Linked DNA regions of Homo sapiens: regions 2, 3, 4 and 5 are each reported to be linked to region 1. Evidence: microRNA targets listed by miRTarBase, many of them from high-throughput screens and not tested one by one. Region 1 holds a microRNA gene; each other region holds the end of a gene's coding sequence. Distances are from middle to middle.
What was found. Region 1 holds the annotated microRNA hsa-miR-4763-3p (AGGCAGGGGCUGGUGCUGGGCGGG, at 2,232-2,255, opposite strand). A microRNA usually pairs through its seed, bases 2 to 8, with sites in the 3' UTR of a target mRNA and lowers its output. Matches are read on the target gene's strand: a 7mer-m8 pairs with bases 2 to 8, a 7mer-A1 pairs with bases 2 to 7 and ends in A, and an 8mer does both.

Region 1 (4,114 bases):
CTCTGGCGGTACTGCCTGAGCTGGGAGGGGTCCGTGGCACGTGGCTCCCGCACAGCCCGGGAAGCTGGGGCCATCCTGAAGGTCCTTGGTCCCCGGCTTTCCTCCCTGGACTTTGTTCTCAAGGCAACTCATCCACATCCCTGGGCACTCTGATCTGGTATCAGCTTAAATCCTCATGGGCGCCCTGGGAGGTGGAAGCTACGGTGACCCCACTGCGAGATGGGAAACAGGTTTGGTGAGCAGAGTGACCAATCTAGGCCTGTCACCCCCAGAACTTCCACAGGCTGCCCTCATCCTATATTTTGGGCGAGTTTTGGCAACCCCATCTCTAGGGACGGCCAGTCAGCAGGGAAGGTTTTGGTCAGCTGGAGGGTAGGGAGGGAAGTGGGGTGAGCCAGGCATCACCTCCTCCAGGAAGCTGCCTCTGACTGCAGGGCTGGGTCCAGGGATCCTTAGGGTTCCCCAGCCCTTGGGCTGCTCCACTGTGATGTTGACCCCAACACATGGCCACTGTGTGTCCCTGGCAGCTCCCCGACCAGGCCTTGAGCTCTGCAGGGCCAAACCCTGCTCCAACTACACAGTATGGGGGCTGGGAGGAGAGGCTGGCTCCTCGGGACGTTCACAGTCTGTTCAGACACAGACAGGGGCTGCGGTGGCCAGAGATGGGTCTGAGCCGTGGACTGAGGGGTGGGGGAGCGGTGGTGAGCAGGAGAGTCCTGGTGGAGGTGAGCACAGGCATGAGGGAGGGGTGCTGGGAGGCAGTGCAGGCAAGGGTGTCAGCAGAGATCTGCTCCGGAGACAGAGGGGGCTGCTCTGAGACTCTGAGGCCTGGCAGTGGGAGTGGGGAGGGATGGAAATGGTGTTTAGAGGACAGAAGTGGCCAGATGTGGCTGCTGACTAATTATGGGGTGAAGAAGGGGATTTGGACAGTGCCCATGTGTCACCCACTCTGGCCCCAGAGGATGATGGGAGAAGGGACCATGGGGCACGTCACTCATCTCCAGCTGCAAACTCCTACGCAGCTGTCAAGACCCAGCTCAGATGGTCCCTGCTTTAGGAAGCCCTCCCTGCCCTTGGGCCCCTCCTCCACGTCCCTTTGCCCTTGGCCCACAGGGTGGCAGCAGCTCCGGGAGGGTAGGCAGGCCTGGGCTCTGAGGTGTTTGCCGTGCAGGACTGGCACAGATGGGTGTCAGGGTAGGGGTGCCGGTCTGCCCAGACGTGGCCATGCAGGGCTGGGGTTGCCTGCAGAACCAAGGCAGGCCAGGAGGGCACAGGGGGGAATCTGGGCCAAGATTGTGGCCTGGGTCAACAGGAGGGGCGAGGATGGGCACTTGGGTGGGGGAGGTGTGGGCCCAGCTGTATCAGCCCCTCCCCACCAGGGGCTCTCGGTGCTGGGCCAGGCATGAACAAGCCCACCCCACATGCCCAGGGCGGGATCACTGGGCCCAGCCTACGGCAGCTGCTAGACGAGGGCCTGAGGCCTCCCAGGAGAATGGGTGCACTTTTGGGATGGCAGTCTGTCAGAGGAATTACGGGTGCCCTGGAAACTGTCCTGAGGGAGGACGGAAGGACAGGCACGTCCAGACTTTGGTCAAGGCACTTAAGGCACGGAGGTGGCCTCAGGAGCCAGGACTTGGCAGTGCTCTGAGCTGCTGACCTGGGGCCTTGGTGGCTGCCCCGTGGGGACCTCTCCACCGGGCCTGGGTCCCGGTGTTCAGCCCGCCTGGCTCAAAGGCAGCACGAGAGGGCAGAGAACGGGCTGGGCCTGGGATCCTGAGCCCAGGGTACAGCACGGAGCCAACTGAGGACTCTGGAGGCACCGGGAGGCGTGAGCAGACAAGTCTCATGACCTGGAACAGCTCGTGGCCAGGGGCCTCCACACTGTCCCGCAGCAGACGCGCCCCAGAGCCCAGTCCCTGGGCTTCCAGAATGAAAGGGGCCAGTTCCAAGTTCATGGTCAGAACAGCTTTATTGAATCTAGCTCCCAGATGCCCACCCAGCTTCGGCTCAGGCCCCCTGCAGGTCACTGAGGTGGGGGGCAGCCCTCCCGTGGGGTCGTGTCACTGAGGTAGGGGGCGGCCCTCCCATGGGGTCGTGTCACTGGGCTCCTCAGGGAAGGCAGTAGGTTGTATAGTTATCTTCCGAGGGGCAACATCACTGCCCTGAAACCACACAACCTACTACCTCACCCCGCCAGGCCCGGCCTTGCACTGCGGGAGGGCCCGCCGCCCCCCGCCCAGCACCAGCCCCTGCCTGGCGGTCCTCAGTCACCAGAGCAGGAGGGCTGGGCAGGCGCAGGGCAGGAGGGACAGGGGAGATGGCACCCCAGGAAGGGGCAGCTGCTGCTGGCTGGTCTTGGGAAGTCCCTGGCTCTCTGGGCCTCAGTTTCCCCAGGTACAGAGGAGCCACTGTCTGCCTTCAGATTGTGCCATGTGGGACCCAGTGTATGCAGAGCTGTTCCTCTCACTTCCTGCTCAGGAAAGGTGCCTTGGCCTCCCTTCCTCCACAGGCAGAGGCCCTGCCACTGAGCTGGCCAGGCTGGGGCACGTGCTGGGAACCTGGGGTGATGGGCAACGCCAATACTCGCAGCCCTGTGACCTCCAAACGTCTCGGCCACCCCTGGCCCCACGGTGCCTTCTCCTGGTGCTCAGTGGAGGGTACGGCTCAGGGCCACCCATGAGCCTGGGCCTGATGGCGGGGGGAGTGTTGGGGAGTGTTGGGAGACAGAGGTCAGACAAACAGCTGCGTGGATCGCCTCTCTCAGTGCGGCTGGGGCAGAGGGTGGGGTCGGCTCAGCTCTCCTCTGCCCTCGATGCTCCACACTGCATCTCCTTCCATCCTCATTTGCCTCCATTTTACAGAGGAGGAAACTGAGACCCAGAGAGATCAGGGGCCTGTCCAAGGTCACACAGCAAGTGGCACCTAGGCCTGTCAGACTTCTCAGTGTAGGCGGCCCCTGCCCCCGACTGCTGCCAAGGCTGCCCCCAAACCTGGCCCTGCCCGCTCCCAGCCAGGGTTCCAGACGCTCTGTCCACCGCAGATATTACAGCCACTTCAGGAAAGACAGTAGATTGTATAGTTATCCCATAGCAGGGCAGAGCCCCAAACTATACAACCTACTACCTCACCCCAAAGGGCAGTCGGTCTTGGTGCCGATGGGACTCCGTGGCTTCCAGAGGCACCTCCTGGGGACGCGGGAGGAAAGAGGGCTGAGGAGAACAGGGGCTCGAGGCTCGGCAGGCCACACGCACCAAGGGCACAGGGATTCTGGCGGGCAGGCGCGGTGGGCGCAGGGGGCTGGGACGCCGAAACCCTGGGAGTGGGGACATTGTGGCCAGCACCAGCAGGGACGGGAGCCTGCAGGAAACCACCAACCAGAGAGGGACGAGGAAGAGAGAAAGGAGGAGGGAGGGAAAGCCCTGGCGGCATTTTGCGACGCTGTCACAGGCAGCCGGCTCCCTCTCATCTGGACAGGAGTGGCCATAATGTCCCCAAGGAACTCTGCACTGGAGACCCTAGGAGGAGGGCTGTCATCTGTCGAAGGCCAGCAAGACACAGGCATGCGAGTGCCCACCCTGCTCGGCCCCCTCCCTCCCCGCACAGCGCCACCAGAAGCAGCACTCGTGGCCCCCAGGCTGGCTGAGTAGCGGCTTCACGGGCGTGCCGTCTCCTCCCACTGGGCAGGCAGGCATCCCTCCCCAGGGGCCCTGGTTCTGGCCCTGCTGTGCAGGCTGGCCTGAGCTGACCGCACTGCAGGAGGTGGCGGGAAGGTTCTTTCCTTCCTTGAGGGAAGTGGCCTCTAGGGGAGAGCAGCTGGGGGGGTAGTCACAGACCCTCAGGTCCACCCAGGGTCCAGTGCCTGTCCCTGCGGGTGCTGGCACACTCAGTGCCCTAGCTTGGGACGCACAGGGCTGGGACAGAGTGTAGCATGAGGATGACACTGAGAGGGCCTCGGGGCTCCCCTAGCAGGGGAACGTGGCGAGAGACGGGCCTCCCTAAGCCCCGCCTATCCTGGGCCTGGTGCAGGGTCAGCCTCAACAAATGCTAATTGTGGCTACCACCTTCCTGGGGAAAAGCTGAGGGGGCAGATACGACTGTCAACCCCTCTTAAACA
Region 2 (4,114 bases), not on the chromosome of region 1:
TAACTCAGCTCTACAGCCTTCAATCAAAGCAAAGTACTGACAATATTGACTGTACTATCACCCGGGTCCTCAGGGGACATCACTAGGGTAGGGGTGGAGGTGCTTTTCAATCCCCAGTGAAAGGAGGCCAACTTCAGAGAGTGAACGAGGACCCCCCAGCATGCCAAGTCAACCCATACGTGGAACAACAACATGTACAGAGAGCTCACCCCAGGCTCACAAGACAAGGACCCAACAGTACCTCTGCAGGGCACAGAGGTGGAGTGAGTCACAACACCCAACCCTGCCTGGGTCCCTGTGGACGTCGGCTTTCATTTTCTCACACAGCTGGGAAGGACACTGCAGCCTGAGGCTATAAGGGGAGTTCACAGCTGCTGGGCACACTATTTACAGACTCAGGAATCCCGGAGCAGGGCGTCCACTCGCTGGGTCCCCCACTACTTTCTAGTCCTGTCTCATCACCCTCTTCCCCACTGAGTTCAAAAGGAAGTTTCTCTGGTGGAGTAAAGGTTGGGGTGAGGAAAGAAAGGAGAACCCGGCATCCCGTGGGTGAAGGCCATCTCCCCCAGCAGGAAGCCACGTAAGATCTGACGCATCGCTGGGATTGGGGGCTGCTGTGGACACGGTGCATCCACCAGTAATAACACTGACTCCTCGGGCCAAACACCCCCGCTGGGAGTACAGATTTTGTGGACGTGGGCAACTTCAGCCCAAGACAGAAGTGGTAGGGGACTGTCCTGGGTGGGTACCCTCAAAGGAGAACCTGATGCAGGGATTCTTGTGCAGGTGAGTGAGGACGTGGTGTCAGAAGGGATGAGGAAAGCAGGATAGAGCTGAAGGAGAAACAGAAGGATGTGCCCGAGTTCCCCGAGGTTGGTAGAGTGTTCTGGGGGATAAGGGAAGCCCAGAAAAAGCACAACGTGTGAGTGTTCCACCCCAATTAACCACCATTACACAAAAACCCAAACACTCTATCCTTTTATTCCTTCCCAGGCTATTGCAGGAAAAGTCTTGTTTCCCAAACGCTGTGCCTTTCTCCTCTTGCCTTCAACCCTGGAGGGGCCCAACTACACAAGTGGCTTATTTGGAGAAGGGAATGAGGTTGAATAAAGAAAGCTCAGCTTCCAGAACACCACACTCTCTTGGTTTTCTCTGACCTTAAGGTAACTCCTTCTCAGTCCTTTGGCTGATTTCCCATTTCCCAGAGAGCCCAAGGGCTCCATCCATGGCTCTTTTCTGTTGCTTCTCAGTAATACTCAGAGACAATCTCAGTGGCCCCTCCAGCTGCATGGCTTTAAATGCCACTGACATGCTGATGGTTCAGTAGGGGGCGCTGTGGTGCCCTGCCAGATCCCTTCACACAGCCAGTGCCCAGGACCCCCACCCCCAACACACTACCATGCATGGTAGCTGCCAGATGCCTACAGCCTCTTTTCCAGAGACTTGCCCTCAACTGAAGTCACTTGCCTTCAAATGTACCCACACTCCCAGAGAACTTCTCACAGCCAATAAATGACTGATAAAGGCTTTCACAGGTTCCTTCTGAGAGCACCCCCAACAATAAACCAAGTGCATTCAGATCCCTGTCTCGAGCTCTGCTGCAGACCTGACCTGAGAGAACTCTCCACTTTGATTTGCAGCCAGAACCTCCCATTCCAACCACAGACAGCCTGCTTTGCACCAAATTCCATACTTACCCAGCCCATCCTTCCCTATTTCAGTAACTGGTAACTCCATCTTTCCTGCTATTCAGGCCAAAAACCTTAATGTCATCATTAACTCTTCCTTCTCTTACACTCCACATTCAAACTCTCAGCAAATCCTATTGGCTCTTTTCAAAATAAATCTAGATATTTGACCACTGCTGTTGCTGTGGCCCAGGCCCAAGCCTGGAACCTTGCAGTAGCTTCCTAACAGGTCTTCCCTCTTCCTTCTGCCCTTGTCCACTAAAGTTTTTCACAATATGGCAGCTAGAATGACCCTTGCAAAATATAAATCAATCAAGGCACTCCTCTGTTCAAACCCTCCAGTGGTTCCCATCTCACTTAGCAGAAGCCAAGGCCCTCCACCACCTGTCCTCCCCAGCCGCCTCTCCTTCCATTCTACCCCTGCCCACGACTCTGCTTGGTCTCCCTGCTCTTTCCTGACCACGTAGAGCAAGTTCTCACTTTGGGGCAGTGCACATCCTGTTCCTCTGCCTGGAATGCCTTGTCCAGGATCCACTTCCCTAACGTCTCTGCTCAACGTCACATTCCCAGTGAGGCCCCATTTAAAACTGCAGCCTCATCTCCAGGATTTCTTACTCCCTCCCCTGCTTTATTTTTCTCCACAGCAATTATCACTACATGATACCTTGTATATATTTATTCCTATGTATTGGCTATCTCTTTCTCCCTGTAGAATGTAAGCTCCATGAGCACAGGGAACTTTCCCTGTTATTCTGTGAAGTATCTCTAGTTCCCAGGTCAATGCCTAGCACACAGTAGGTACTCAATAAATATTTACTGAAAGAATGAATGAAACTAGACAGCTCTGGCTTTCTTCCTTTTCCAACTCGGAGACTTATAACTAAGCATTGTCCTCAAATGGGATCGGCCAACCGTTGTAATTTTGGAGATGCAAAGTGGGGCAAAAGCCACATTTCTGCACTCTACACTCTCTACTCAACTTGTTTTTCAGTGGGTGCTAGAATTGGTACAAGTCAGACCAAGTGAAGACCATTGTGAGGCTGGAGAAATTTAGCCTATGTCTTCCACCATCTTTCCCGGATGGGGAGAAAGGAGACTAAAATCTGGAAAAGCAAATAAGCCAAAGGAGGTTTTCACAATTATCATCTTCTAGGAATGTTTTTCTTATTTAAAAAATAATACTGATTTTCTGGGAAAAACAAAAAAACAAGCCAGAGAAGACTGCCCTTCAAACCAAAATGGTAAGAAAGGCAGCTATGAACATGGGGAAGACAAGTGTGAACATGAGGAAGACAGGGATGAAGGTGTGAAAACAGATGTGAGGATAAGAAGACAGGTGTAAAGGTGAGAAAGAGGCCGGGCATGGTGGCTCACGCCTGTAATCCCAGCACTGTGGGAGGCCAAGGCAGATGGATCATCTGAAGTCAAGAGTTCGAGACCAGCCTGGCCAACATGGCAAAACCCCGTCTCTACTAAAAATACAAAATTAGCCGGGCGTGGTGGCACATGCCTGTAATCCCAGGTACTCGGGAGGCTGATGCAGCAGAATTGCTTGAACCCAAGAGGCGGAGGTTGCAGTGAGCTGAGAACGTGCCATTGCACTCCAGCCTGGGCAAGAGAGCGAGACTCCATCTCAAAAAAAAGGTGAGAAAGATAGGTGTGAACATGAGGTGGCAGGTGTGAAGATAGGAAAGGCAGGCTCACCCCTGATGACATGCAGTTAGAGAGACGGGGGCTTCCCTTTCACTTTGGAGAGTAAAGAGAAGGCTCTGAGGTATCAACAGCCTGGGCTGTTGGGAAAAGGACAAAGAATCTGTGTTTCCTGAACGCCAAGAGGAAGTCTCTTTGGTTGCTGTGGGCTAGCTGGTCTCCTCCAGTTCCAAGAGGTCATCCACATATTCCACAACTTCTCCCTGTAAGAGACAACAGGACAACTTTATTAAATGGGCTATTGGACTTTTAAAAGTACTGATGAGCAGAAACAGTATCCCGAGAGGCCATCACCACTGTCTGCTTTGGCTGAAACAGGTTTTTTCTGCTGGTCTGGGGCCCAGAGGACCTGATTTCTCCCTGTGGAGGGGACCTCGGCTTCCACTCCATTTGAACTTGGTATCAAGTGCTCTGCGAGATCCGCCAACATGCTGTGTGAGGCGGACAGCCCAGCCTGTGAACAGCTCTACTAAGTGGCCCTCCTGTGTGCATCTCTGCCTACTCCCCTTCCTCCCCTCTCATGTGTGCAGGTCTCCCACAGGAACATTTTCTATCTGTTCCCTTTCTGCCTTGACCACCAGAACCCAAACTTCTCAAGGACCAGGGGACTGGGTTGATTTTTCTTCCCCAGAGTCCAGCACACAGAAGGTGCTCAATACATGTGTTGAAGGATGAATGATTGAGTGCTTGCATACATACTGCTGGTGTGACTGAAG
Region 3 (4,114 bases), 8.7 Mb from region 1:
CCAGCCTGATACTCCCCACTGCTGCTGCCCCAGCTGCCTCCCGGGGACGATCCAGGCCTGGCCTTCCCAAGCAGGTCTCTTTACTCCCACCCTCCTCGCTCCCCTGACAGCCCTTTTCCCAGACCTACCCAGACACGGGCTCCCCAGCCTGGACACAGGCTGCTCCCACAGGCCTCCTGCACTGCCTCAGGAGGGGAGCCCAGGTGAGGGATTCTTTGGTGGGCAGAGAGAGACTCTTCCTGCCGCGGGGAAAAGCAAGGCCGGGACCCGTGACGAGGTTTCCCCACCAACCAGGCTTTCTTGCCTTCATGCCAGACCTCTGTGTTTTGCTACTGGAAGGCCATAAGCTCCAACAGAGGGTTAGCTGCACCTGCTGTGCCCTCCCAGGAAGGAGCAGACCCATTGTGCTACTTCCCAGAAACAGCTTCAGAGGAGATTCTCCAACAGAGGCAGGCAAGCCCAGGTGTGACCTTGTTCCGGCCCAAGGCAGGAGGCCTCCCCGCAGAGGTCCAGGGCGTGGCACCCACACATCCCTCGCTCCACCGGGCCTCCATCTCCCCTCCCTCCCTGTGGCCCCCCCTGCCCTCTTTTCCTGGTGTCTGCCCTGCTGGCCTGCCCCAGACCACAGCCCAGCTCCACCATGCTCATCATCATCACAAACCCAGACCTTGGATGGCAACATTTTGTGAATACTTCCCTCCCGCCTGGGAAAAACTCATCCTGAGCAGGACGTGGGACACAGATGCAGGCCAGCCTCCGGGTGGGCTCTCCCCAAGCTGAGCAGTTGGGGCTCTGGCCTGGCTGGGAGGCCAGAGACCCGAGTCTTAGACCCCGCTCTGCCTCACAAAGAACCACATGAACTGGGTCTTCAAGGCCAGTTCCCCTCCTGGATCATCAGAGTCCTGCTCTTTGGAAGGGCCCCTGTCCCTGCAGTCAGAGAGTCTGAGGTTTCCTAAATATCTTCACGCAGAAAGGATGGGGAAATGGCAAGCGCAGGCCCCTAACTCCTGCTGCTGGGAACCCTCCCTGGGGCCCAGCCCAGGCGTGCTCCTTCTTCCCACGGGTTCCTTTCTCAAAGCCCCCACCCTCTCCCTGAAGCCCCCCACGAAGCCCCAAGCTCCTGGCCTCCTACACTCAGCAGTGTGACTGATCCTCCACCCCAGCTGGCCAGCCAATTCACCAGGCCCGTCTGGGAGCCCTGACTTCCTCATCTACAAAACGGGAACAAGCGGGACGGACAGACAGTCCCTTCCACCGGGACAAGAGCCCTTGAGGAGGCTTCCCTGGGGCTGCCCTCCCTGGCATGGAGGAGGGGAAGGAACTGGGGACAAGGGAGGTGGCAGTGGAGAGAGGGAGGGAGGAAGGGAGGTGGCACATGGGCCCAATGCTCAGAAACACAGGAGGTGGGTGTGGGGCAGGGCTGTGTCTTGGTGGCACCTGTTTTGGGTCTGTTTTTGCAGAGCTGACCCCTCCCTGGGTTTCAAGAGCTGCTCGTCAGATCACAACAGACAGAATGTGGGAAAGCAGGGCATCAGAGAGGGGGCGGGGGAGTCTGGACAAACTGGCACATACACGACAGATGTTTGCTCAGAAAAATACAGTAAAATCGTCATGCAAATATAACAGGGAGTCTGCTTCCTCACACCCCTGGCTTCTCTGCCTGCTTGCTTTTCTCAGTTGTGCCAAGGGGGTGTGAGGAGGGGTTGGGGGGCAGGTTTTGGGGGCCGGGGGAGGAGGTCTGCTCCGCGTATCCATGCCGCCCCCTCCCCTCCTCGCCCCAGGAGAACAGTCTTTTCTTTGCAAATGTCACCCTCAAAGTGAGCCCTGGGCTTCGTTAACCCCAAAGTTGGTGTGAGAGAGGTACTCAGCTGAGCCCGAGCCTCCTAGCCCTCTGCTGTCCTCCCTCACCCCCTGCCCCCAGCAGGAAGGTCGTTGGGGTCCCCAGGGGATGGCACTAGCTTTCCTGGTCAGAGCCCCTGCCCACCAACAGTGCCGGTCTTGGACCCATTCCAGTGCCTACCCTCGCCCCTCAGTCACACTCCCCAAATCTCAGGAAACCCATGTGGGCCACAGGCCCTAGACTGGGGGTCTCTGGCAGGGGCGTGGGGAGAGCCGGGGCCCCCCAAGCTGAGGTGGGTGGCAGCCAAGCGACATGTTGCTAGGCGGGCAAAGCTGCTAGTAGAGGCGTCCCCACACCCCGCTGGGCCAGCTCCCACCCAGAGGTGAAGGATGATGGACTCCGGCCCATCAGCATCCTGACTGGTCAAGACCCCAGTCTCAGGACCGCAGATTTGCCTCCCAAAAGAGCTGGCCCCAGGAGCTGCTGCCAGGCTGGCCCTCCCTCACCACCCTCTGCCACCGCCTACATGGACAGAGAACCCCAGAGCCCAACGGTCACTCTGGGCACCAACTGCCAGGCACAGGGTTACCATGGTGACAGAGGCTGGCTGGGAGGGGCTGGGGCGCCACGAACCCAGCCTGCTCCTCAACCCTCTCTCGGGTGGGGGCCTCACTGTTTGTGCTTTGTTTGATGTTGGGTGGGGGGGTCAGAAAGAGGGAAGTGGCCATTGCCACGGAAACATGGGAGCCCCTCTGGCCAGGGGGCCAGGCCTGGATGAGCAGCCCAGAGGGGATGGGTGAGAAAGCCCTCCTTCCCCGGGTGGGCGGCTGAGATAGGAGCCGAGATCCCACGATGGGGTCGGGCAGGTGGGGACACAGGCCATGGGGACAGGCAGGAAGTCCCCCATGACAGCTCCTCCCTGCAGCCCTCCAGGCATCACAGTGCACCGCTGCCCTTCTGCGGTGGGCAGGGGTCTCGGAGGACCAGAGAAGCTGGGGCCGGGAGCCTGCACCTGAGACGTCCTGGGAGCTGGCCTGCCCGCCACACGCCCCACTCTTCCCAGGCCACGTGGAAGACACTTGAAGTGGGCTGGTGGAATGTCGCCCTGCCTCGGCTCCTTTCCCGTCAACAGGACCCTCTCCCTTCTCCCGGGTGCCGGCATAGGGGTCAAAAGCCCCCCAGGATTCTGAATCACAGCTGCACACTCTGGGGGCACTGCCATGTGGCTTTCTAGGAAGAAAAAGCACCTGCCTGATTCCCAAGTCCCTCAGCCCCAAGGGACCACAGCTTCGGAAAGGGATGTGGGGTGGGCACAGGGCGGGCAGGGGTCCACAAGAGAGCTGCAGGGGGTTCCGGGACAGCACTGGGCTGGGAAGTTGGGGGACTTGAGGCTAAGCTGCTGTGTGACCCTGGGGTTGTCAACTCCCTTCTCTGGGCCTCAGTTTCCCCCCCTCTCTAAAGTGGAAGGAGACATTGCCCGATGTCTAATGCTAAATCTGCAGGTGACTTGACTCCCAGCTTGGGAAGGGACCCTCTCCCTGCCCTAGAGGGGCTTCAGTCCCTCTCTACTCCAGCTTTCTTGACCCCCACACCTGTTTCTAGCCCCAGACCCCCCAGACCCCACACCCTCTCTTGGCTTCCTTCCTCCCCCCGCCAGCCCCCCGGCCCTGCACACCCCAGCAGAGTCCCTGGGCAGCACAGTAAAGACGACTGGTTTCGGTATCAGTTTGTAAACTTTAAGGAAAATGTGTCTCTGTTTTCCTGTCCGTTATTGTCGGATGTTGGTTTGTTCACAGTCGGGTGGTGGTCAGGTGTGTGTGTGCGTGCGTGCGTGCGGGTCTGCATGTGCGTCCTCTCCTGGGCCTTGGCCCCCGAGTCTGCTCCCCGCCCTGGCCGCCTGGACCCTTCCCCCAAAAGGCCCCCAGCCCTCTGGCTCCGACCTCACCAGGGAGGAAGGGGGGGGTCACAGCTTCTGCTGGGCGGAGACCCCCTTCCAGTAATCAAGGATGTCATGCAGATCCTCGTCCTTGGCGAACTGGACCTTCTTGCGCAGGGCGTGACCGGCGGCCATGTACACCTCCTCCCGGTGGTGCTTCTTGTAGGGCCGGAAGCGCTCCCAGATCTTGTGCGTGCTCTCGGATGAGTACTCGGGGCTGGAGGAGTACCCTGAGTAGTAGTGTCTGGGGGAGAGCTGCGAGTAGGTGGAGTCACGCTTGGAGCGGGTCAGCGGCTTGAGGAAGGACACGCGCTGGCTCAGGCTGTCGGCACCCTCCT
Region 4 (4,114 bases), not on the chromosome of region 1:
GTATCAGCGCCACTCGCCCCCGCCCCAGCCTGTCCCAGGGTCGTCCCTGTCCCCACTGTCCTCGGGCGTACCCTCCTCTGGGTTCCCCCACTTCCGAGCTTCCCTCACCTCAAATTCTGGGTCATGTGTCGGGGCAGTGTGGCAGGCCGAGGCTGAACTGGCACCTCCCAGCCCCTCAGGACCAAGCCCCAAAGCCTTGGGGACCCTCCAGGCAGCTTCCTCCCTGGGCCTGCGGCTCAGCGCATCTGCCATCCCCATGTGTCTGCAGGAGTCTGTGTCTGTGCTCAACCTCTTCACCAGGATCCGGTAAACCTGCCGGGCAGGACCGTGCCACACCAGCTGTCCAGAGTCGGAGGACCCCAGCTCCTCAGCTTGCATGGACTCTGCCTTCCCAGCGCTTGTCCCCCGAGGAAGGCGGCTGGGCGGGCGGGGAGCTGGGCCTGGAGGATCCTGGAGTCTCATTAAATGCCTGATTGTGAACCATGTCCACCAGTATCTGGGGTGGGCACGTGGTCGGGGACCCTCAGCAGCAGGGGCTCTGTCTCCCTTCCCAAAGGGCGAGAACCACATTGGACGGTCCCGGCTCAGACCGTCTGTACTCAGAGCGACGGATGCCCCCTGGGACCCTCACTGCCTCCGTCTGTTCATCACCTGCCCACCGGAGCCGCATGCTCTTCCTGGAACTGCCCACGTCTGCACAGAACAGACCACCAGACGCCAGGGCTGATTGGTGGGGGCCTGAGACCCCGGTTGCCCATTCATGGCTGCACCCCACCATGTCAAACCCAAGACCAGCCCCAAGGCCAGACCAAGGCATGTAGGCCTGGGCAGGTGGCTCGGGGCCACTGGCGGAGCCAGCCTGTGGATCCAAGAGACAGTCCCCACCTGGGCTTCACGGCATCCTTGCAGCCACCTCTGCTGTCACTGCTCGAAGCAGCAGTCTCTCTGGAAGCATCTGTGTCATGGCCATCGCCCGGCGGTCAGTGGGCTTCAGATGGGCCTGTGCATCCTGGCCAAGCGTCACCCTCACACTGGAGGAGGATGTCTGCTCTGGACTTATCACCCCAGGAGAACTGAACCCGGACCTGCTCACTGCCCTGGCTGGAGAGGAGCACAACAGATGCCACGTCTTCGTGCATTCGCCAACACGTGCCCTCACAGGGCCAGCGTCCTCCTTCCCTGCGCAAGACTTGCGTCCCCCATGCCTGCTGGGTGGCTGGGTCCTGTGGAGGCCAGCAGCGGTGTGGCCCCCGCCCCCAGGCTGCCTGTGTCTTCACCTGTCCTGTCCACCAGCGCCAACAGCCGTGGGGAAGCCAAGGAGACCCAAGGGGTCCAGGAGGTGGGCGCCCTCCATCCTTCGAGAAGCTTCCCAGGCTCCTCTGCTTCTCTGTCTCATGCTCCCAGGCTGCACAGCAGGCAGGGAGGGAGGCAAGGCAGGGGAGTGGGGCCTGAGCTGAGCACTGCCCCCTCACCCCCCCACCACCCCTTCCCATTTCATCGGTGGGGACGTGGAGAGGGTGGGGCGGGCTGGGGTTGGAGGGTCCCACCCACCACCCTGCTGTGCTTGGGAACCCCCACTCCCCACTCCCCACATCCCAACATCCTGGTGTCTGTCCCCAGTGGGGTTGGCGTGCATGTGTACATATGTATTTGTGACTTTTCTTTGGATTTGTTTTGTGTTTTTGTTGACTAGTCCTGGAAATGTTTGAGGCTAGACGGGGAGGGGCCAGGACCCACCCACTGCTCCTGGGGGATGAGGTCCTGGTTTTAAAGCCCCGTCATTTCAAGCGGGTCGATCTTCCACATTCACTGGAGAGACTCTCCCCACCTCTGTCTGGGTGGGGCGCGGACCCCTCACTGTGCGCCTGTGCAGGGGGTGCTGGTGCACGTGGCAGTGTGGATTTCCAGTGGTCACGGTCTTACTGTTTCAAGGTTTTTAAATAAGAAAACCAACCCTGCCTTCGCCCATGCCCGCCCCTGCCCGCAGTTGCCAAAGAGCCGCCTTGTCGCTGTGGGCGTCAGGGCTTGGCTGGCTCAGTGCACAACCCACAGTGGCCTTCAGAGGCTCCTCCTGGGACTGGGAACCGCCGCAGGGCCAGGCGGACGGCGTGAGGTTTGTGTTGGGGCTGGTTCTGCCCATGCTAGGGGGTGGGGGAGCTCCCAGGACAGACCAGCCTTGTTTCTCATGTAATGCAGTGACGCTGTCATTAAACACGTGGATTCATGTGTGGCCGGGACTGGCTGGCTCTAGGTCCCCGGCTCGGGTGGGGTCACACGGTCCTGCCCTAGAGTCCCCATCTGGCCCTGGAGCTGCAGAAGCAGCTTCTGAGGGGCTTCCCAGGCCTGCATTTCACAGATGGGGAGCTCAGCCCTCGAAGGCCGCAGAGACGCCTCCCAGGCCCGTCTGCCAGGGCGCCGGCCACAATCCTGCAGGGCCAAGGACTGGACTCCAGGCAAGTCCCTGCGCTCCAGCTGGACGGCCCTGTTCCAGGGAGGAGGTGCTCGGTTGACACCATCAGGGAGGGAGGGTGGGCACTGCTGGGCTGAGTTCACCCCCAGGGCTGGCCAGATGGGGCCAGGAGGGACAGAGCAAGGGGGGTGAAGGCCGTGGTGGGAGGGTCCCATGATGATGGGCCAGGGCTCGTGTAGAAATGGGGGAATTGGTTCCCCATGGCCCAGGACAGCTGAGAGGAGGTGGAGGGGCCCCAGGGGAGTGTACGTCAGGCTTTGCGGGGCACGGGGGCCACTCAGCAGCGCTGGGGCAGGTGCCTCTGCTGTCAGCTCCACCCGACAGGCAGACGAAGGCCAGTGGGGCCATCGCTTCCTGGGGCGACCCTGGCAGTGGTTGGGAGACGCCCAGATGGAGGGGGAGGCTGACCAAGGGCCCCGCAGGGCGGGCTGCAACTTTTCTGTTGATCCTGGAATGTAGCTGGTGCAGTGAGAGGGAAAGAGAATTGAAAAACTCAGGCTGCCATAGGTTCTGCGATGAGAGGTGCAGGAGGCAGGAGCCTGGCCCAGGGGGTGCTGGTGCCTCCCCGGGGTCTGGGCGGAGAGAACAGGAGGAATGGCTGGGAAGTGGCTGAGGGAGCCAGGAGGCCGGGGGGCCGGGGGCTGCAGGGGAGGCTGTGGGGGTCCTGGCAGCCAGGAGGCCCCAGGTGGTTTTGAGGCTCGCTCTTGCGCGGTGCCTGAGAAGAGGGTGAAGGAGCTGGGGCAGGCCCCATCCTGGGCATTGGAGATGATGAAACCGAGCAGACCTGGCCCATGTGGAGCTGGCATGGGGGACACAGCCCAGAGACAGAGAAGCTTATGAGGAAGTGAGGAGGTGGCGTCACAAGGGTGGGGAGGGGGCCTTGGGGAAGGGCGGCCTTGGATCAGAGGCTCACCACAAGCCTGGCATTTCAGCCAGGGCTGGAGAAGGCAGGGACGCCTGGGTGAGAGGCAAAGGGCACAGCCATGCAAAGGCCCTGGGGCAGGACGGCACCTGGTATGCGGGAGGAACAGAGTGAGGAGAGGAGGGCAGGGCGTGCAGGGCCTTGTGGGCCTCAGGGAGGACTTGGGCACCTACGCCGAGGGAGTGGAGCTCCTGGGTGCGTGTCCAGATGGGAAAGGCAGGGTCGTATCTGTGGGGACCTGACAAGGGCAGGGGAAGCGGAGACCAGGGTGCAGGCTCCGCCCCCACCCAAGGCCGGGCCCAGCCAGAGGAGGGGCAGGGCAGGGCAGGAGGTTTCTGGATGTTTGTTGGGTTTGGTTTGGTTTTGTTTTGTTTTGTTTATTGTGGTAAAATACAAAATCTACCGTCTTACAGTGAGGTGGCGTTCAGTACCTTCACCACGCCGTGCAGCCATCCCATCTGATTCCAGAACATTCTCATCACCCAGAAGGCAGCCCTGTCCCCATTATGTCACCTAGTCACCCCCAGGTCCCCCTCCCCAGTCCCGGCACCCACGAATCCTCTCCCTGATTCTGTGGATTGGTCTGTCCTGGACATTTCATAGAAGTGGGATCACAGCGTACCCTTCTGTGTCTGGTGTCTCTCACTGAGCGTGACATCCTCAAGGTGCATCCGCACTGTGGCCTGGGTCAGAGCTTCGCACCTCCTTGTGGCTGAGTCTCG
Region 5 (4,114 bases), not on the chromosome of region 1:
TTGGCAATATAAAATATGCTGGCTGTTTCAAGTTCTCACCATTGTCTTTGCTATCATTATTAAAAACTCAAGTTCAAAGATTGCACTGTTCATTATTTAAAAACAAAACAAAACAAAACAAGAGATAGTGTGGGATAACAAGTGCATCTTCCTACTTATCACCTAACAAAATAAACAATAATCAAGACTGAACCACAACAGGTGATTGAACTACTTAAAACATATAGCAGTGGTTAATTTCTATAATGGACTCTATTGCACACTAAGTTTTTGAAAACATATTTGCCCCCCTCACATCTGAATGCGTTCATAAGATCTTGGTTGTGAATTACTTCACGGCCTTAGATCTCACTAAACCCTGGTTACTTCATCATGTTCAAACAGAATTGAAGATCTGCTAAGAAATGTATAGTATGCTCTGCTCTTCCTGTAAAGGGTTTAGATTCAGCCTCTGGTGTCAAAACAATTCAACTGCTTTTCAGTTCAATCACAAATTAATCGTTTGCTTCACCAGCTGGTAAATTCAAAGTATCATCAATGTCAGCTTATCTACCAGAGGATATCTGTTCTGTGGATCTTACCACCTCTACTCCACAGCTGGGCTGAGCCAGGATGCTGTGGCCAGAGAAAGAGGAGAGCATTGGAATATGTTTCTAACCAAACATCCACGTAGAAATGATCTTTAAAGTTGCCATTATTTTGTATTATCAGTCCCCTGCTTTTTCCCTCCAATATAACGAATCATGCATTAACTGTTTCAGGTTCTTTAAATTCTTTATATTGAAGATTTGAAGATACAAAATATAGCAGTTTTACTTTTACAAATCTATAGACTCTCGTTCCTTTTATGGCTGGATGGCTACCAGCTACTCTTACTTGGAAAATCCTAACTCTGTTGAAACACTAATTGGCATTCTTTTGTAAACCCTTCCCTTGTGTTAGGCAATTTTCTCATTTAATACCAAAATAGTCTCATCTCGACTCATTAATTTTTAAATCACAAACCATCTAGTCTTTTGCCATTGAGGTATGTGGCCATTTGATGCTACTGACAGTCCTCCCTATACTGGCTGTATTTGTTGCTTAAGCATGTCCAACTGTTAAAGTGGCAATGGCAGAAAGAACATTTTCCTTCTCCTCAAGACAAGAAACTTCAAATGTCAAGGTGCTGAGCTAGCAGTTGAGAGCTCTAGCTGCAATTAGCCAACCTTTGAGCCAAACCATAGGACTGGACATATAGTGGATACCATATACCATAGCTACTTCTAGCATACAAGCTACAAGGATTCCTGAGAAGCTGAGGTTAATGAATGAGATTGATCAGGAGTGAGGTATCAAAGGGATATTGTCATTCTCTGGAGGGCCAATCGGTGCTTAGCATCTACAAAGTATACCTTGGCACAGTGTTATCTGATTTCTCTAATTTATTCTCTGAAGTAGCACCTTAACACTGGCTCATCTGTCTAAAATCAAGAACAAAGCCTAGAAGAAACACAAAAGCAAACTTGAGACACCCTCCTTATCGCTACTGCACTATGAAATATGACCAAACCTTTCATTGTCATTAAATACCAGAAATAGTAACATTTTCTGTTTTGCAAACTTTAGTGGGGAAGGACAACTAATAAGACAGGTATTGGACCAGAAATGTACAGATAAGAACTTTGATTTCTACACAATATACAGGGTAGTCAAGCCAAATAGTCTCATATGAAGGAATCAGTGACATGGAAAGGACAAAATATGTGGTTACTGAGCCATTACTATGATACAACATACCCCAGAAAGATTTTTTTCTTTTTCATTAAAATGCTAGAGTGATCTATTCACAAGGAGAAACTCTAGCGACTGCCTTGATTATTTTAAAGATAAAAATAAAATAACCCTTGGCTACCCAGTTCTGAGCAAAAAAAAGAATTTCAGATTTTGGAAAGACAAGAACTATGGGTAAAAACGTCCTAGAATCAGGGATCAGCAACTCTTAAAATGAGGTACACTGAAGTGTTTGGGGGTAGAGGGTTGGTGGGAATATGCAGAATGACCGCTGATTCTGGGCTGGAAGGATGATGAGAAGTGCTAGGAACAGAGCTATAAAATCATCCAGGCTGAACTCTTACCCCGGCAGTGAAATCTCACTGCCGTAGGCATCCAGTGTGGAAATGGAGGCATGGCAGCAGCAACTGGGCCACATGGCAAAGGAAATGGCTGTGTGTCACCTCTGGTCCATGTGTTGTGAGACTGCTGAGCCTTGGTTTACAATTTAACTAGCCCTGGGAGTTATTTTTTTTTGTAGTAGGAATGATTAACCAGGAGCAGCGCTCAATCCCAAACAGAGGATTTGGTACTAAGGAGTAAGAAGTGGAACAGAATGGAGGGGGAGTAATTGCACACAGGTAAAACTACAGAAAATGAAATAGTGGTTGGAATGATGATGGTGGCTCTGTAATTCCACCAAGTGTCCCCAGAGTGTGATTTTTTTTTAACTGCAATAAAGGTGGTATGAAATTGAGACAGGCACCTTTTCAATTGGATACAAGCACCTTTGGTGTCACCAGGCCTTGTCCATACCCCTGTGTCTTAGGATGGCTCTGCATTTTATTTAGAATTCTAAGGACTCTTGAGGGAGTCACAGCTGCCTATCCTGTTCCAACACCTTGAATATATTTGGAAGCATCCCAAGCCTAATTCATGATCATGGGGACAACACACTGGCCTGTTACACATACTTATCGCTGGGAGGTACAATGAGTGTCCAGTTATTTTAGTACTGGTGGTCTTTACAAAGGAATGCATGAGGATGCATATGCAGTTCTGAGTCTTCCCTGGTTTACCAGTATGCAGTCTAGACTTGGTTCCCTTTGCTGTTTTTACATATTCCAGAAGCCTAAAGCACCATCATTCATGGAGGTGGCATCTGGGTAAGAGAATTAGTTAGGACCTCACAAACATGTGAAACTCCTAGTCATTGACTTTGCTTAGAAGTTTACTAATTATTCATTTCAAGGAAGCTGGAAGAAATCATTCCTTGCTACTAACAAATTCACGGCAAAGTCCTTGTCTACCAGCTAACAAATGCCACCTGGAAAATTACCGTTTTTGCAGACAAGGAGAAAGCTCTATAACTTATCTTTGTGCACTTCAAAAGAGTACCAGCAACAAGCAAGCTATAAAAGTCAATCTCTCTAAATTCATTTAGAAGAGATTAACCAAAGCAGCATTGTCTTATAATCAGAAATTAAAATTAACATAAACATACACACATAACAAACTAATAATGCTAAATATTGTAACAGGAACAAGGATAACATTTGAACTGAATCTTCACAGTCTAGAAAATACCATTACTCTTTTCCTTCTGGCTTTCCTTTCTCTGGTTTGAAAAGCAAAGCCCCTTAGTTTACACTTCGTCTTCCAGTAACAACAGTTAGATCCCAAAAGAGTGACTTTTTCGTCGGTTTCCTACAGGTTATAGGTCAGGACGGTTGGAATTTCTCTTGCATAGTTTTCAGTGATTGCATATTGGCTAACTACTTTTTAAGTTAAAAAAATCTTTTAAAAAGCAAATATAATTAAACCATAGCAATCTTATTTATTCTTTCATGATATCTTCCTAATGTAACATCATGGAAGCCTAACTATAATTTCTCCTAAAGAGAAAATTAATTTCCAGAGATTATGTAGTGCAACTGGTTAACTTGTAGGAAAGAGACAACACACTAATGTGACTTCACCATCCAAATATGGAAAATGTGTTTTGGGTACCCAGTTAATACAACATATCCATGGTCTGTAATGTCCTTCCCGCTTTACATCCAGAACTCTATGATTCTAGTTGAAGAGAATGGAATCAGGATCTTGGTTCGCCATCTGTGCTATATGCTTTAACACATCCTTTTTGGTAATGATTCCAAGCAATCGCCTAAAAGACAAACACAATACAAAAAAACAAAAATAAATCTGTAGTTAAAATAGCATTCCCAAAGGTGATACTTGTCCTCCTCAGTCCTTTTCAACTTTGTCTTTGATCACTAGCTGCCCTTTCAGTATGAGATCACAGGAGTAGGACATGTGCCCCAGGCAAATAGGATGATGTGTGGATTCCTAAATGTATGCA

Region 2: the mRNA of CRTAP is a reported target of hsa-miR-4763-3p. Seed matches in the 3' UTR shown: 7mer-A1 at 3,360-3,366.
Region 3: the mRNA of ELFN2 is a reported target of hsa-miR-4763-3p. Seed matches in the 3' UTR shown: 7mer-m8 at 3,161-3,167, 7mer-m8 at 2,806-2,812, 8mer at 2,093-2,100 and 7mer-m8 at 1,414-1,420.
Region 4: miRTarBase lists FZR1 as a target of hsa-miR-4763-3p. Seed matches in the 3' UTR shown: 7mer-m8 at 1,954-1,960 and 7mer-m8 at 1,976-1,982.
Region 5: miRTarBase lists CLCN5 as a target of hsa-miR-4763-3p. The part of its 3' UTR that is shown has no 7-base or 8-base seed match.

The regions. Positions count from the first base shown.
Region 1 is chr22:46,111,765-46,115,878 of GRCh38, reverse strand. It overlaps MIR4763 (microRNA 4763), which reads right to left and starts at 2,313; the gene lies at 2,222-2,313. It overlaps LOC124905135 (collagen alpha-1(III) chain-like), which reads right to left. Exons shown (of 2, transcript XM_047441696.1): 2 at 1,951-4,114. It overlaps MIRLET7BHG (MIRLET7B host gene), which reads right to left. Exons shown (of 5, transcript NR_110479.1): 5 at 1,951-4,114. It overlaps MIRLET7A3 (microRNA let-7a-3), which reads right to left and starts at 3,130; the gene lies at 3,057-3,130. It also overlaps MIRLET7B.
Region 2 is chr3:33,141,882-33,145,995 of GRCh38, reverse strand. It overlaps CRTAP (cartilage associated protein), which reads right to left. Exons shown (of 7, transcript NM_006371.5): 7 at 1-3,601. The coding sequence ends at 3,548. Among named protein-coding and RNA genes, the nearest start is that of CRTAP, 30 kb to the right of the region's middle.
Region 3 is chr22:37,369,269-37,373,382 of GRCh38, forward strand. ELFN2 (extracellular leucine rich repeat and fibronectin type III domain containing 2) reads right to left here. Exons shown (of 3, transcript NM_052906.5): 3 at 1-4,114. The coding sequence ends at 3,804. Among named protein-coding and RNA genes, the nearest start is that of ELFN2, 56 kb to the right of the region's middle.
Region 4 is chr19:3,534,527-3,538,640 of GRCh38, forward strand. It overlaps FZR1 (fizzy and cell division cycle 20 related 1), which reads left to right. Exons shown (of 14, transcript NM_016263.4): 14 at 269-3,808. The coding sequence ends at 310. It also overlaps a transcript of MFSD12 not described here. Among named protein-coding and RNA genes, the nearest start is that of TEKTIP1, 2.6 kb to the right of the region's middle.
Region 5 is chrX:50,091,934-50,096,047 of GRCh38, reverse strand. CLCN5 (chloride voltage-gated channel 5) reads right to left here. Exons shown (of 15, transcript NM_001127898.4): 15 at 1-3,919. The coding sequence ends at 3,829. Among named protein-coding and RNA genes, the nearest start is that of MIR502, 79 kb to the right of the region's middle.